3 separate regions of the Homo sapiens genome follow, and all the other regions are linked to region 2. The links come from fine-mapping of genetic effects on gene expression. A gene starts in region 2. Each other region holds a variant in brackets. All regions are shown on one strand. Distances are from middle to middle.

Region 1 (4,329 bases), 63 kb before region 2:
TTCTCTCTTCTGTAACTCCTATCAGATGTATGTTCAAGTCCTATTCTATCTTCCACTTAATCTTTAAATTCTCAAATATTTTCTTTGCTACTTTAATATCCTCAGATCTATTTTCCAGTTTGCCAATTCCATCTGCAGCTCTGTCAAATCTAGTCTTTAATCTTTCCATCTGCCTATTTTTAAACTTCAAATGATTATATTCATTCCTAAATGTTTGAATAGGTTCCTTTTCAAATCTGCCTGGCTGGGTTCTTTTTTTTTTTCCTCCCATACAATTTATTTTTTAATCCTTCTTTTATGCCTTTATTTTTAAAAATATCTTTCAAAGCATCTGGCCAGGCTCATGCTTGTAGTACCAGGGCTTTGGGAGGCCAAGACAGGAGGATTGCTTGAGGCCAGGAGTTTGAGACCAGACTGGGCAACATAGCAAGACCCTATCTTTACTTTAAAAAAAAAGCTGGGTGTGGTACCATGCCCCTGGAGTCTTAGCTACTTGGAGGCTGAGGCAGGAGGACTGCTTGGGCCCAGGAGTTGGAGGCTGCAGTGAGCTATGATCACACCACTGCAGTCGAGTCTGGGCAACATAGTAAGACCCCCATCTCTATAAAGGATTTCAAATGATTTTAAAAAAGCATCTATCGTATTACTCAAATTATCTGAAATCCTACGGTTCTAACTCTGTTTTTAAAAATCTGTTGGTTTTCACTCATAATGAATTATTTTTCAACTATTTTATTTATCTTTTCAAGACAGTGTCTCACTGCTCTATCTCCCAGGCTGGAGTGCAGTGGCATGATCTCTGCTCACTGCAGCCTCAACCGTCCTGGGCTCAGGTGATCCTCCCACCTCAGCCCCGAGTAGCTGGGACCACAGGTGTGTGCCACCACTGGGTGACAGAGCAAGACTCTGTAGCAAACAAAACAAAACATTTTTCTCACATGGAGCCCAGCTTCTTTGTTTGTACCTCTACCTGGGTTTTCTTATTTCATTTTTTTCCCTGACAACATAGCCTTTGGTGGGCTCTCGTGTAGCATAAGCTTCACAACTCAATTCTTTCGACTCTGGCAATCAGTCCCCTATTTGTTTCAGGATTCTAGGAATTTCCCTTACATTTTTTTTTTTTTTTATTGATCATTCTTGGGTGTTTCTCGCAGAGGGGGATTTGGCAGGGTCACAGGACAATAGTGGAGGGAAGGTCAGCAGATAAACAAGTGAACAAAGGTCTCTGGTTTTCCTAGGCAGAGGACCCTGCGGCCCTCCGCAGTGTCTGTGTCACTGGGCACTTGAGATTAAGGAGTGGTGATGACTCTTAACGAGCATGCTGCCCTCAAGCATCTGTTCAACAAAGCACATCTTGCACCGCCCTTAATCCATTTAACCCTGAGTGGACACAGCACATGTTTCAGAGAGCACAGGGTTGGGGGTAAGGTCACAGATCAACAGGATCCCAAGGCAGAAGAATTTTTCTTAGTAGAGAACAAAATGAAAAGTCTCCCATGTCTACTTCTTTCTACACAGACACGGCAACCATCCGATTTCTCAATCTTTTCCCCACCTTTCCCCCATTTCCATTCCACAAAACCGCCATTGTCATCATGGCCCATTCTCAATGAGCTGTTGGGTACACCTCCCAGACGGGGTGGTGGCCGGGCAGAGGGGCTCCTCACTTCCCAGTAGGGGTGGCCAGGCAGAGGCACCCCTCACCTCCCGGACGGGGCAGCTGGCCGGGCGGGGGGCTGACCCCCCCACCTCCCTCCCGGACGGGGTGGCTGGCCGGGCCGGGGGCTGACCCCCCC[C/G]CCTTCCCGGACGGGGCGGCTGGCCTGGCAAGGGCTGACCCCCACCTCCTTCCCGGACGGGGTGGCTGCCGGGCGGAGACGCTCCTCACTTCCCAGACGGGGTGGCTGCCGGGCGGAGGGGCTCCTCACTTCTCAGACGGGGCGGTTGCCAGGCGGAGGGTCTCCTCACCTCCCAGATGGGGCGGCGGGGCAGAGGCGCTCCCCACATCTCAGACGACGGGCGGCCGGGCAGAGACGCTCCTCACTTCCTAGATGGGATGGCGGCCGGGAAGAGGCGCTCCTCACTGCCTAGATGGGATGGCGGCCGGGCAGAGATGCTCCTCACTTTCCAGACGGGGCAGCCAGGCAGAGGGGCTCCTCACGTCCCAGACGATGGGCGGCCAGGCAGAGACGCTCCTCACTTCCCAGATGGGGTGGCGGCCGGGCAGAGGCTGCACTCTTGGCACTTTGGAAGGCCAAGGCAGGCGGCTGGGAGGTGGAGGTTGTAGCGAGCCGAGATCACGCCACTGCACTCCAGCCTGGGCACCATTGAGCACTGAGTGAACCAGACTCCGTCTGCAATCCTGGCATCTCGGGAGGCCGAGGCTGGCGGATCACTCGCGGTTAGGAGCTGGAGACCAGCCCAGCCAACACAGCGAATCCCCGTCTACACCAAAAAAATACGAAAACCAGTGAGGCGTGGCGGCGCGCGCCTGCAATCGCAGGCACTCGGCAGGCTGAGGCAGGAGAATCAGGCAGGGAGGTTGCAGTGAGCCGAGATGGCAGCAGTACAGTCCAGCTTCGGCTCAGCATCAGAGGGAGACCGTGGAAAGAGAGGGAGACGGAGAGGTAGAGGTAGAGGTAGAGAGGTAGAGAGGTAGAGAGGTAGAGAGGTAGAGAGGTAGAGAGGTAGAGGTAGAGGTAGAGGGAGAGCTCCCTTACATTTTTACGAGATCAGCACTGGTTATATTTTCCCAGCTTTTAAAGGTATACATGGAGTGGGGAGAAGGGGATTTCAAATTCACTAGAAGGTCTCCATCCTAAACTGCAATTGTATAAAAATATCAGTAAACAATAAAAACAGATGCATTTAAGGCCTGGGATTAGAGATGAAGCCCTTCTGTTGAAAACTGTTTTTGATATTGGTAATGAAACACAGTTCAGGAAAAAAGAAAAAGCCGACAAATAAAATGATTACCTAAGCTGATAAAAAGAAAAACAGGATCCACGGTGCAAGTTTAGGGGGTTAAATGTTTATTAAATCAAGCTTTTAAATTATATATCCACCTACAGTCTATAAACAAATATAGTACACATGTATGTAAAAGGCTAGCAGATAAGAACCAGTGGAAAAACTAAAGTTCCCTTTGCACACCGGCACCTCATCACAACACCCTCTTGGTGTGGATGCCATGGGGCCATGCTGTAGTCAAAAGTTAAATGAAAAACCACAAGTTTAGTTTGACTCCGTCTCCTAGGGTGGATTTCATTCAGATATTTGTTCCATATTATAGGAGGGTGGATCCTAGCAAGGCAACAGTGTAGTTTTTACATTCACAGATTGGCTGAAGTAGTACAAATTGAGCTGCTAATCTAGGTGTCTCCCTCCCTGTTACCATACTTCATAAGAAATGTGAATTAAAATGAACAATGGACCACAGGTGGTTATAAAAATAGATAACTCGCAGAGTCATAAATATCTACAGTTAGTAGAGCAGAAACTTCTAAAATTTACCTTTTTCCATAATGTGCAGAATATCCTAAGTATGTTCAAGAGACACAGTCAGCAGACTTCAGAGTGGTAATTACAAGGGCATTTGTAAAGAAATAACACTCGAGTACAAACCCAGAGTAAGAAGCTGAATGCAGATGAAAATACGCAAAACACGCAAAGTTCCAACTCCTCACATCTCATTATGCTACTTACTAGACACCACAATTAGCTTACAGCCCTTTATATATCTTTTAAAGTAACTTTTTGTTACCTGTGTACAAACTTTAACAAAGATTTTTCATGAGACAAGCAAAGTGGGTTAATGGTGGCGCTAAAACTGCTGAAACTTGGAGTGTTTTGTGTGCTTTCGTATACTTCTGTGTATGGGGCTTTAAAATGCTCCAAAAATGTTTTGGATAGAGTTTTTAAAATTCCCATGAAAATCTATTTTATAATCATTTCAAGGTATAGAAAAAAAGAAATCCTAAACTGGCATTGAGGGACAGGCCCAAATCTCACAAAGTAACTTAAATTCTAGGAATATATAAATTACATTCATATGTTCATTTAACACGTATCAAGTGCTATGTAAGGTAACTGTAATGGATTCTGAAGCCAATCTCATTTAAAACAGTACAGTAAATCCCATTCTAATTCTACAATTAAAGCACTTATTCCAGGTAATGTGCGTTTCAGCAAAGCTGACATCTTGTACAACAGTGTCACCTTAAAGCTTCATCAAAGATTCACAGCAGGCCTGAACTGTAAAAGTTCAGAACCAACAATGCCACAGGTAGTTATTCATCCTAATTTCTCGCAGGGAGTGAAGGGTCTACTTGA
Region 2 (4,322 bases):
CCTTAGCATCCCAAGTAGCCGGGACTACAGGCGCCTGCCACCACACCTGGCTAATTTTTTGTATTTTCAGTAGAGACGGGGTTTCACCGTGGTCTCAATCTCCTGACCTCGTGATCCCCCTGCCTCAGCCTCCCAAAGTGCTGGGATTACAAGCGTGAGCCACCATGCCCGACTAATATTTTATTTTTTGTAGAGGCGGGGTTTTGCCGTGTTGCCCAGGCTAGTCTCAAACTCCTGGGCCCACCTCAGCCTCCCAAAGTGCTGGGATTACAGGCATAAGCTACTGCGCCCAGCCCTGGTTGTTAAACAATGTGAATGTATTATTCAATCAAATATCATTATGGTTTTAAAAATTAGTTTTTAGGCAGGGAGCGGTGGCTCACACCTGTAATCCCAGCTACTCAAGTGGATGAGGCACAAGAATCGCTTGAATCCAGGAGGTGGAGGTTGCAGTGAGCCAAGATCGCACCACTGCAACAGAGTCTTAGTATTGACTTAGCATATGCCAGGCACTAGGGTAGATGCCATTCTCAAAAGTTGGGAGACAGATAATCAAATAACTCCTTATAATGCAGTGATGCAGGCCAGCAATAGGGACACAGAGAGAGGCCACTGGCCTTGCTGGGATGGAAAAGTGAAGAACCAGGTAAGGTTTCCTTCAATAAGTACTTTCTGGGCCAAGTCTTGAAAGAGTAAAACTAAGACCAACTACCTAGGACCAGCTGCTGCAGCACTTCTGATGCCTGTCACGCCACAGAAAAACCGGTAAACAGAAGCACTGAAAGGACATCATCACTCTTAACTATTGTACACCAGTCCCTCCAATGTGGCAGAGTGTACAGCAATGAAAAAAGGCTTGGAAACACCAGATGCTACACTTTGCTTCCTTCCCCCTTCACACCCCCACCTCTACATTCACCCAAACACACCAGAGAATCCCACAGTGTACGTTTGATTAAGGGTACTAGAAGAACTGACATTTCTAATGTGCTCTATAAAATGTTAAAGTCAAATAAGGCCCCAAAGAGACGCAAAGCTTCGCAAACATCTCGGCAAGGGAGAATTCTCAACGCCTCAGGGAGAGCGGCCTGTTGAAACTTGGATTTTCTTCCTGATACGACGCGCCTAAGATAGTGGACCTATCAGAAGCGGGGGCGAGACGGGCACCTTGAAGGGCAGAGCATGCCCCGCCCGTGACCTGGGCAGCAAGAGCCCTTTAGCCCTCTCCGCCTCGGTTTCCTCAACACCGAAACTGCAGTAAGAATGCTCGAGCCTCCACCAAGTCCTTGACCCAGGAGATCCGCCGTGGAGAACGGAATACGCCCTTAGGATATTGTGCAAAACACCCAGGCGTGGCAAGCAGGTGGCTTCTGTGCGCTCAGTAACGGGGGCGCAGACAGGTGCCCGCGTGCTCGGGGTGCCCTCTCTCCGCGCTGTCCCCCGCACGCACGCGAGCCCAGCGCCTCCCGAGCGAGTGCCCCGGTGCGGCCTCCTCGGGCGCACGGTGCCCAGCCCAGCAACGAGGTCGCCCACCCCGCCTCCCTGCGCGCAGTGCCCGGTGCCCACGCCGCAGCATGGGGCGCGCAGCCCTCACCGCCCGGGAGAGGCGCTTCCTGGAAGCGGAGCCCCGGCCTCCAGCCCGCCGCCGCTCACCAGTTCCCCGAGCCCACGATGCACACTTTCAGGGGCGCCGCTGCCATGGCCGGGCCGAATGTAGCCGCCTGGACCGTGCTTCCCTGGCCGGCTGCCCACCTCCGCCTGTTCAGCCTTGCCCGCAGCGGCTGGCGGCGGCCCCGCCCCTTTCGCCTCTCCGCCAATGGTCGCGGCCACCCCCGCCCGGCGCCGGGGGCCGCAGCTGACAGCGGGGCAGGACCCGCTTCGCCACTCCCAAGAACCACTGCGCACGCCTGGCCCCGGCCGGCCTCCAGGCCCGGCTCCGGCACCGCCCCGCCCTGCCCGAGGCACGTCGGGACATGTAGTCCTCACCCCCCGTCGCTGCGCGGCCCTAGGCAGCAGCTCCCGCCGCGCCACATGCAGGCCCAGGCCACTGAGCAGCGACTCGCGCCCCTGGTTCCCGGTGGAGGCTGCACTCCATCCTCATGGGTGGAGCAGACCCAACCAGCTTGCCGTGGTGCCCCCTACACGCTCCTTTTTCCCTACTCGGGAAGGGCTGCCACATTGCCATTTGGAGCCGAGAGAGGCTCCTAGGTTGACTCTCAAGCCGACCAGACTTGGGGCAGAGCTCGAAATGCCCACCCGACCTTGTCATCCTCTGTTTCATTTGCACAAACAAGACACAGCCTGGCACCTCTGAACTTCTTAGAGAACTTGGATCTTCAGAGGACTTTGGAATTTGGCTGAACAGTACCTGCATTTCAAGGATGACACCTTTTCTAGTTAGAGTCAAGATAGAAACTTGACCTGGTGCAGTGGCTCACACCTGTAATCCCAGCACTTTTGGAGGCCGAGTCAGGAAGATCACTTGAGCCCAGGAGTTCGAGACCAGCCTGAGCAACATAATTAGGACCCCCCACCCCTCTGTACAAAAATTTAAAAAATTAGCCAAGCATGGTGGCACGCACCTATAGTCCTAGCTACTCAGGAGGCTGAGGCGGGAGAATTGCATGTGCCCAGGAGGTCGAGGCTTCAGTGAGCCAGGATAGGGCCACTGCACTCCAGACTGAAGGACAGTGAGACCCTGTCTCAACAAAAAATAAATACATAAAAATAAAGGGAAAAAGGTAACAACAGCTTGCATTCAGTGGGTGTCACCCTCACACGCTTACTTGGCAGGAATTGCTTTACCATTGTCTTTGCCCAGGGCCTGACTTATCCCTTGCTTGTGGTTTGTTTGCATTTGTGAGTAACACAATGCTCTCCTCCTTGACAAATAGAATCTTAGTTTGTTCATTCTGAGCATCAGTCTCTGCCAGGCACTGTGCTAGACGCTGTCAGAGTAGGACAAAGTCCTTTAAACCAGTGGTTCTCAAACTCTGCTGCATATTAGTCACTGGGGCTTTTAAAAATCCCCATGCCCAGACACCATTGCAGGCCAGTTACATCAGAATGTCCCATGGTGGGATCCAGGCATCAGGATATTTACTTATTGACATATATTTTTTGAGACAGTCTCCTTCTGTTGCCCAGGCTGGAGCAGAATTTTTTAAAGTTCAAGAGGTAGTTGCAAAAGCAAGCCAAGATTGAGAACCAGAAGACTAAAATATCAGTGGATTCTGGCTAAAGAAACAAATACTCTAGTACCTACAAAAAACTAAGCCTAGGCCGGGTGCCGTGGCTCACGCCTATAACCCCAGCACTTCAGGAGGTCGAGGCAGGCAGTTCACCTGAGGTCAGGAGATGGAGACTAGTCTGCCCAACTTGGCAAAACCCCGTCTCTACTGAAAATACAAAAAATTAGCCAGGCATGGTGGCAGATGCCTGTAATCCCAGCTACTCAGGAGGCTGAGACAGGAGAATCTCTTGAACCTGGGAGGCGGAGGTTGCAGTGAGCCGAGATCTTGCCTGGGCGACAAGAGCGACACTCCGTTTCAAAAAAATGATAGTAATACTAAGCCTATTAGTTTGATGCTCAGAGAACTGTTATTTTTGCTTTTTTCTCTACATTGTATGAAATATTTATTTGTGTTACTTATGATATTTACTTAAGGAAATACTTAAAGGGAGCTGGTGAGTCAGAGCAGTCTTTCCATCCCCTCACCAATGGTTTGTTCTCAATTATTTGCACTAATGCAAGGATACATGCAGGGATAATGGGAAAGATGGACTAGTAAAGCTTTATTAATCCTTTCTGTATTTGTGTAACAGAACGCATTTGTCAAATTGAATAATGAAGTCATGTCCTTGGGTAGTACACATACACTGCAAATATTTATGTTATCTAACTGAACTAGGGTCCCTTCACCTGACACAGTAAGGCCAAATACCCACACCAAGGTTTGCAGAGGGAGAAAGAAGGGTGTTTATCTGTAGGGTACCAAGCAAGGAGAATCAGGTAGCTCCTCCTTGATGGCTGGCAAGTAAGGGTTTTTAAAGGCAGCTGGGGGCCAGGCGCGGTGGCTCACACCTGTAATCTCAACACTTTGGGAGGCCGGGGTGGGAAGATTGCTTGAGCTCAGGAGTTCAAGACCAGGCTGGATAACACATACCGTGTCTCTACAAAAAATTAAAATTAGCTGGGTGTCCCAGCTAGTCGGAATAGGCTGAGATGAGGGGATTACTTGAGCCTAGGAGGTCGAGGTTGCAGTGAACTGTAATTGTGCCACTGCACTCCAGCCTGAATGAAAGAGCAAGACCCTGTCTCA
Region 3 (4,000 bases), 40 kb before region 2:
TGCTAATGCAAAGAATGCCCCACACAGGCGCTTAGAAATATGCATGTGTGCTCCCTAGGAGCCCAGGCCTTTAATTGGCTTTAATTTTTTTAAATGCTCATTATATATCATGACCACACATATATACACAATGTTAATTCTAGAGAGTGGTTTTAACTTCTGACTAGAAAAAAACATATACAATTTATGAGAAAGCATAGACAGGCATTCTTTCCACCTTTGCAACTCCCATCCAATAAAGACAGGTGACTGGTGGATTGCCTAACCTCTTCCCTAGATGCTCAAATTTCTGAAGGGTGGCTTTTTGCTGCAAAAGAGATGACTCAGAAGTGGCTCAAAAGGGGCATTCACATTGAGAACTTTTTATTTCCCCTATTCCCCCCACTCTTTTTTGTAGATGATAGTGAAATAAAGGCAACTTAGATAGTGAGGGGGAATGAGCAGGTAGCTGCTGCTGTTCCCTGTTGGTTGTTCCCCCAAGTCACGGCAGAGAGAGGGACAGTGCCTAAGGCTTTAAAAGACAGCAGCCAACAAGTCAGGAGCCCAGGTGTGGAGACCTCCCTTTACCTCAAAAGAGGGGAAAAAAAGATAACATAAACTACATACTTATGATTTTTGTACTTTTCTGTATGAAGTACCTCTTAAAATTTACATTAAAACAAACAAAAATACACCTCCAATCAAAGAAGCCGGACACAAAAGAGTGCATACTGTACAGTTCCACTTACAAAAATCCAGCAAGCCACTGGCCAGTGGAGTGCATTTCTTTAATCACATCTTCTCTCTCTTGAGGGCAAAGACAAAACTATTCTTAGAAAAACCTCTACCAGCAGCAGATTATTTTTTCCCTTAATAAGAACAACCAGCCAAACTAGTAGAGTAGCATAATTCAGAGGAAACAAGTTCCTTTTCCTGCTCAGGATGAAGTGTGGGAGAAAAACATGAATGAATAGAATCATTTGCTCCTGGGTGAAACCCTGTCATCAAGGAACTCCCATGCTTTCCAAATATCAATGCTGCCAACTTCCCAAAGACCAAAACATCACAATTCCCCCATATTTACAAGTTAAAGCAAGCCACGAGTAAGAGAGGAACTGAACCACCCGGGAAAGGCTGCAGCAAAACAGGAAGTTATAAACAAGACTCTCAATTCACTATTCTTCGCTGATGTGGGTGCACAGAACACAGAGCCCATTCTTGAGGATTAGACTCAATGATGCTAACATTTGCCTTGCTTGATGAACTCCTCCCCTGAGGCTGACTTTACCTTAAGCGCACCACAGAGTTCAACAGTGTCTGCATCATCAACCACGGTAATTCGAAAATTTGGAGTCTGCAGAAGTTCTTTGAAGAGAAGGCCGTTCTCCATTACTTTGCTGCCTGTTGAAAGGTTAGACAACAAGGATATTAATAACAGCCTCTAATCTTAATTTTCACACCTAATACACTTTAAAATAAGTTTCTACTTACTATAAAAGTAACATGTTCATGATAGGATATTTAGAAAACACATAGGAGCAGAAATAAAGTAAAAATATCCCGTTTCCAATCGAGGTGATCATTTACAATTTGACATACATTTTTAACTGACCGAATGTGAATCTAAAGTTTTTTTTGGCCAGACACGATGACTCACACCTGTAATCCCAGCACTTTGGGAGGCTGAGGCGGGCAGATCACGAGGTCAAGAGATTGAAGCCATCCTGGCTAACATGGTGAAACCCCATCTCTACTAAAAATACAAAAAATTAGCTGGGCGTGGTGGCACGTACCTGTGGTCCCAGCTACTCAGGAGGTTGAGGCAGGAGCATCGCTTGAACCCAGGAGGTGGAGGCTGTAGTGAGCTGAGATCTCACCACTGCACTCCATCCTGGGCAACAGAGCGAGACTCTGTCTCAAAAAAAAAAAAAAAAAAAAAGAAAAAAGCATGATTGTCAACAAGTAAAACTACACCAAGAAGTGACACAATGTCAAAATAATCCAGGCCATCTGAGGGTTGAGAGAGGGTGGGGAGTGGATGAAATGAGACTGGCCAGGAGTTAATCATTTCTAAAGATGGGTGACGGGCATGTGAGGTTCGTGATACTACTCTACTTTTCTGAAAAGTTTCATAATAAAACACAATATCTACACCCAATACTTAGAAACACAGTCTACTCTGTAGCATTACTGTTCTTTCATTTAGCTGAGTTCCCCTTTTCCAAATGTTAGAACTATGTCAGTTTGTGCAAACTGTT[C/A]TCTTCCTTTTTAAACAGTCCACCAGGCTGTCTAGGTGACTCTGTGCAACACTGTTGCATCATCTGGGTTGGGTAAACCAGCCCCTGGCCCCTACATCATATTACAGCCTCATCGTGTCTCCTCCCACTGCTCAGTGCCTCCAACATGAAGCATGCTCCTGAACATTGCAGACCAGCCCCTCCCTCAAGTCACTTTAATCCAGCCATCTGCAGCTGGAAACTTGGGTTGCTGGTGAACAAACTGAGGAATGGGCAGGGGAAGGCACACTCTTGGCTTGCCATAGATACAAGGTAGGGTCTATGGGTTCCTTTGTGGCTGCAAATAACGCAATGCCCATCCAAGAGGTGGGCTTGATTTATAGCAATCTCATATTTTCTCAAAGGTACCTTTTAAAATTTATTACCTTAAATCATGGATAATAGGTAGTAACTTTATTTATTTATTTATGAGACAGAGTTGCTGTGTTGCCCAGGCTAGAGTGCAGTGGCACTATCTCAGCTCACTGCAACCTCCACCTCCCAAGCTCAAGCGATTCTCCCGCCTCAGCCTCCTGAGTAGCTGCAACTATAGGCATGCGCCACCATACTCGGCTAAGTTTTGTATTTTTAGTAAAGATGGGGTTTCGCCATGTTGGCCAGGCTGGTCTCGAACTCCTGACCTCCAGCAATCCACCTGCCTTGGCCTTCCCAAGTGCTGGGATTAAAGGCATGAGCCACCGCACCCGGCCCGCGAATTTTATTATTAATATAATACCAGTCATAAGCCAGCGCGGTGGCTCATGCCTGTAATCCCAGCACTTTGGGAGGCTCAGGTAAGTGGATTACTTGAGGTCAGGAGTTCGAGACCAGCCTGGTCAGCATGGCGAAATCCCATCTCTACAAAAAATTCAAAAATTAGCCTGGCGTGGTGGTGTGTGTGTGTGTGTGTGTGTGTGTGTGTGTTCCCAGCTACTCAGGAGGCTGAGGCATTAGAATCATTTGAGCCCAGGGGGCGGAGGTTGCTGTGAGCCGAGATCACGCCACTGCACTCCAGCCTGGGCAACAGCGTGAGACTCCATCTCAAAAACAACAACAACAACAACAACAAACCCCAGTAATAAACAGTGACATGGCAAGCAGGGACTCAGGGCATCTGTACAGAACAGCTAATGCCGGACAGCCATGTGGGAAGGTTGCCCAAAACTCAATGTAAACCAAAGACAGGAAAATCCCCTTTCTCTGTCACACCAAGTTTTAGAGGCAATTAACCTATGTAATAAAACTCCTTCAAAACCCTTATTTTAGTTTGTGATTCCATATGTGTTTGTGTGCTTACAAGTTCCATAAGGAGCTTATGTATTCTAGACATTTGGCACCATGCCTGATACATAAGAGGGTTTGAAAAATATTTGTGGAATGACTGGATTAAAAGCCTCAGAGTCTGTGGTATGCCCCAAGAACGAAAGGAGACCTTACCACAAGAGGGCACTGTAGTTCACCATGACAGGATTTTGAGGCCTGAAGCTGCCCTATCTTTTCCCTCCACAGAAGATTCAAGTGGGCCACGATTCCTGAACCTACCGCAATTTAAAATAGTCCCTATGCATCAACAAAGGATGTCTGGATAACCACACTGCAATGATCAAATACAGAAAATGTAATGTTTACATAATATTATTATCTAACATATAATCCACATTCAAACCTCACCAATCACCTCTGCATTGTCTTCCACAGCAACCCTCCCTGCCTAATCCAGGACCCCACACTGCACATAGTGCTCA

Which allele goes with the higher level. Positions count from the first base shown, and alleles are read on the strand shown. Sizes are in standard deviations (SD) of each study's normalised expression. Not every link is listed here.
For the expression in prefrontal cortex of the gene that starts at base 1,792 in region 2, C is the low allele of the variant in region 1 and G is the other (moderate effect, 0.46 SD a copy in CommonMind).

Evidence for each region. PIP is the estimated chance that this variant, and not a neighbour inherited with it, causes the effect.
Region 1: its variant is the best candidate, but not a certain one, in a credible set for the expression of GPD1L in prefrontal cortex (CommonMind, PIP 0.89).
Region 3: its variant is the best candidate, but not a certain one, in a credible set for the expression of GPD1L in monocytes (TOPMed, PIP 0.58).

Annotation. Positions count from the first base shown.
Region 1 is chr3:32,167,393-32,171,721 of GRCh38, reverse strand. GPD1L (glycerol-3-phosphate dehydrogenase 1 like) reads right to left here. Exons shown (of 8, transcript NM_015141.4): 8 at 3,013-4,329. Among named protein-coding and RNA genes, the nearest start is that of GPD1L, 63 kb to the right of the region's middle. RefSeq lists an enhancer at 1,722-2,379. The variant C/G (reference allele first, on the strand shown) is at 1,797.
Region 2 is chr3:32,104,090-32,108,411 of GRCh38, reverse strand. It overlaps GPD1L (glycerol-3-phosphate dehydrogenase 1 like), which reads right to left and starts at 1,792. Exons shown (of 8, transcript NM_015141.4): 1 at 1,654-1,792. The coding sequence starts at 1,700. RefSeq lists silencers at 1,390-1,529, 1,650-2,059.
Region 3 is chr3:32,144,002-32,148,001 of GRCh38, reverse strand. It overlaps GPD1L (glycerol-3-phosphate dehydrogenase 1 like), which reads right to left. Exons shown (of 8, transcript NM_015141.4): 5 at 1,268-1,380. Among named protein-coding and RNA genes, the nearest start is that of GPD1L, 39 kb to the right of the region's middle. RefSeq lists an enhancer at 1-219. The variant C/A (reference allele first, on the strand shown) is at 2,238.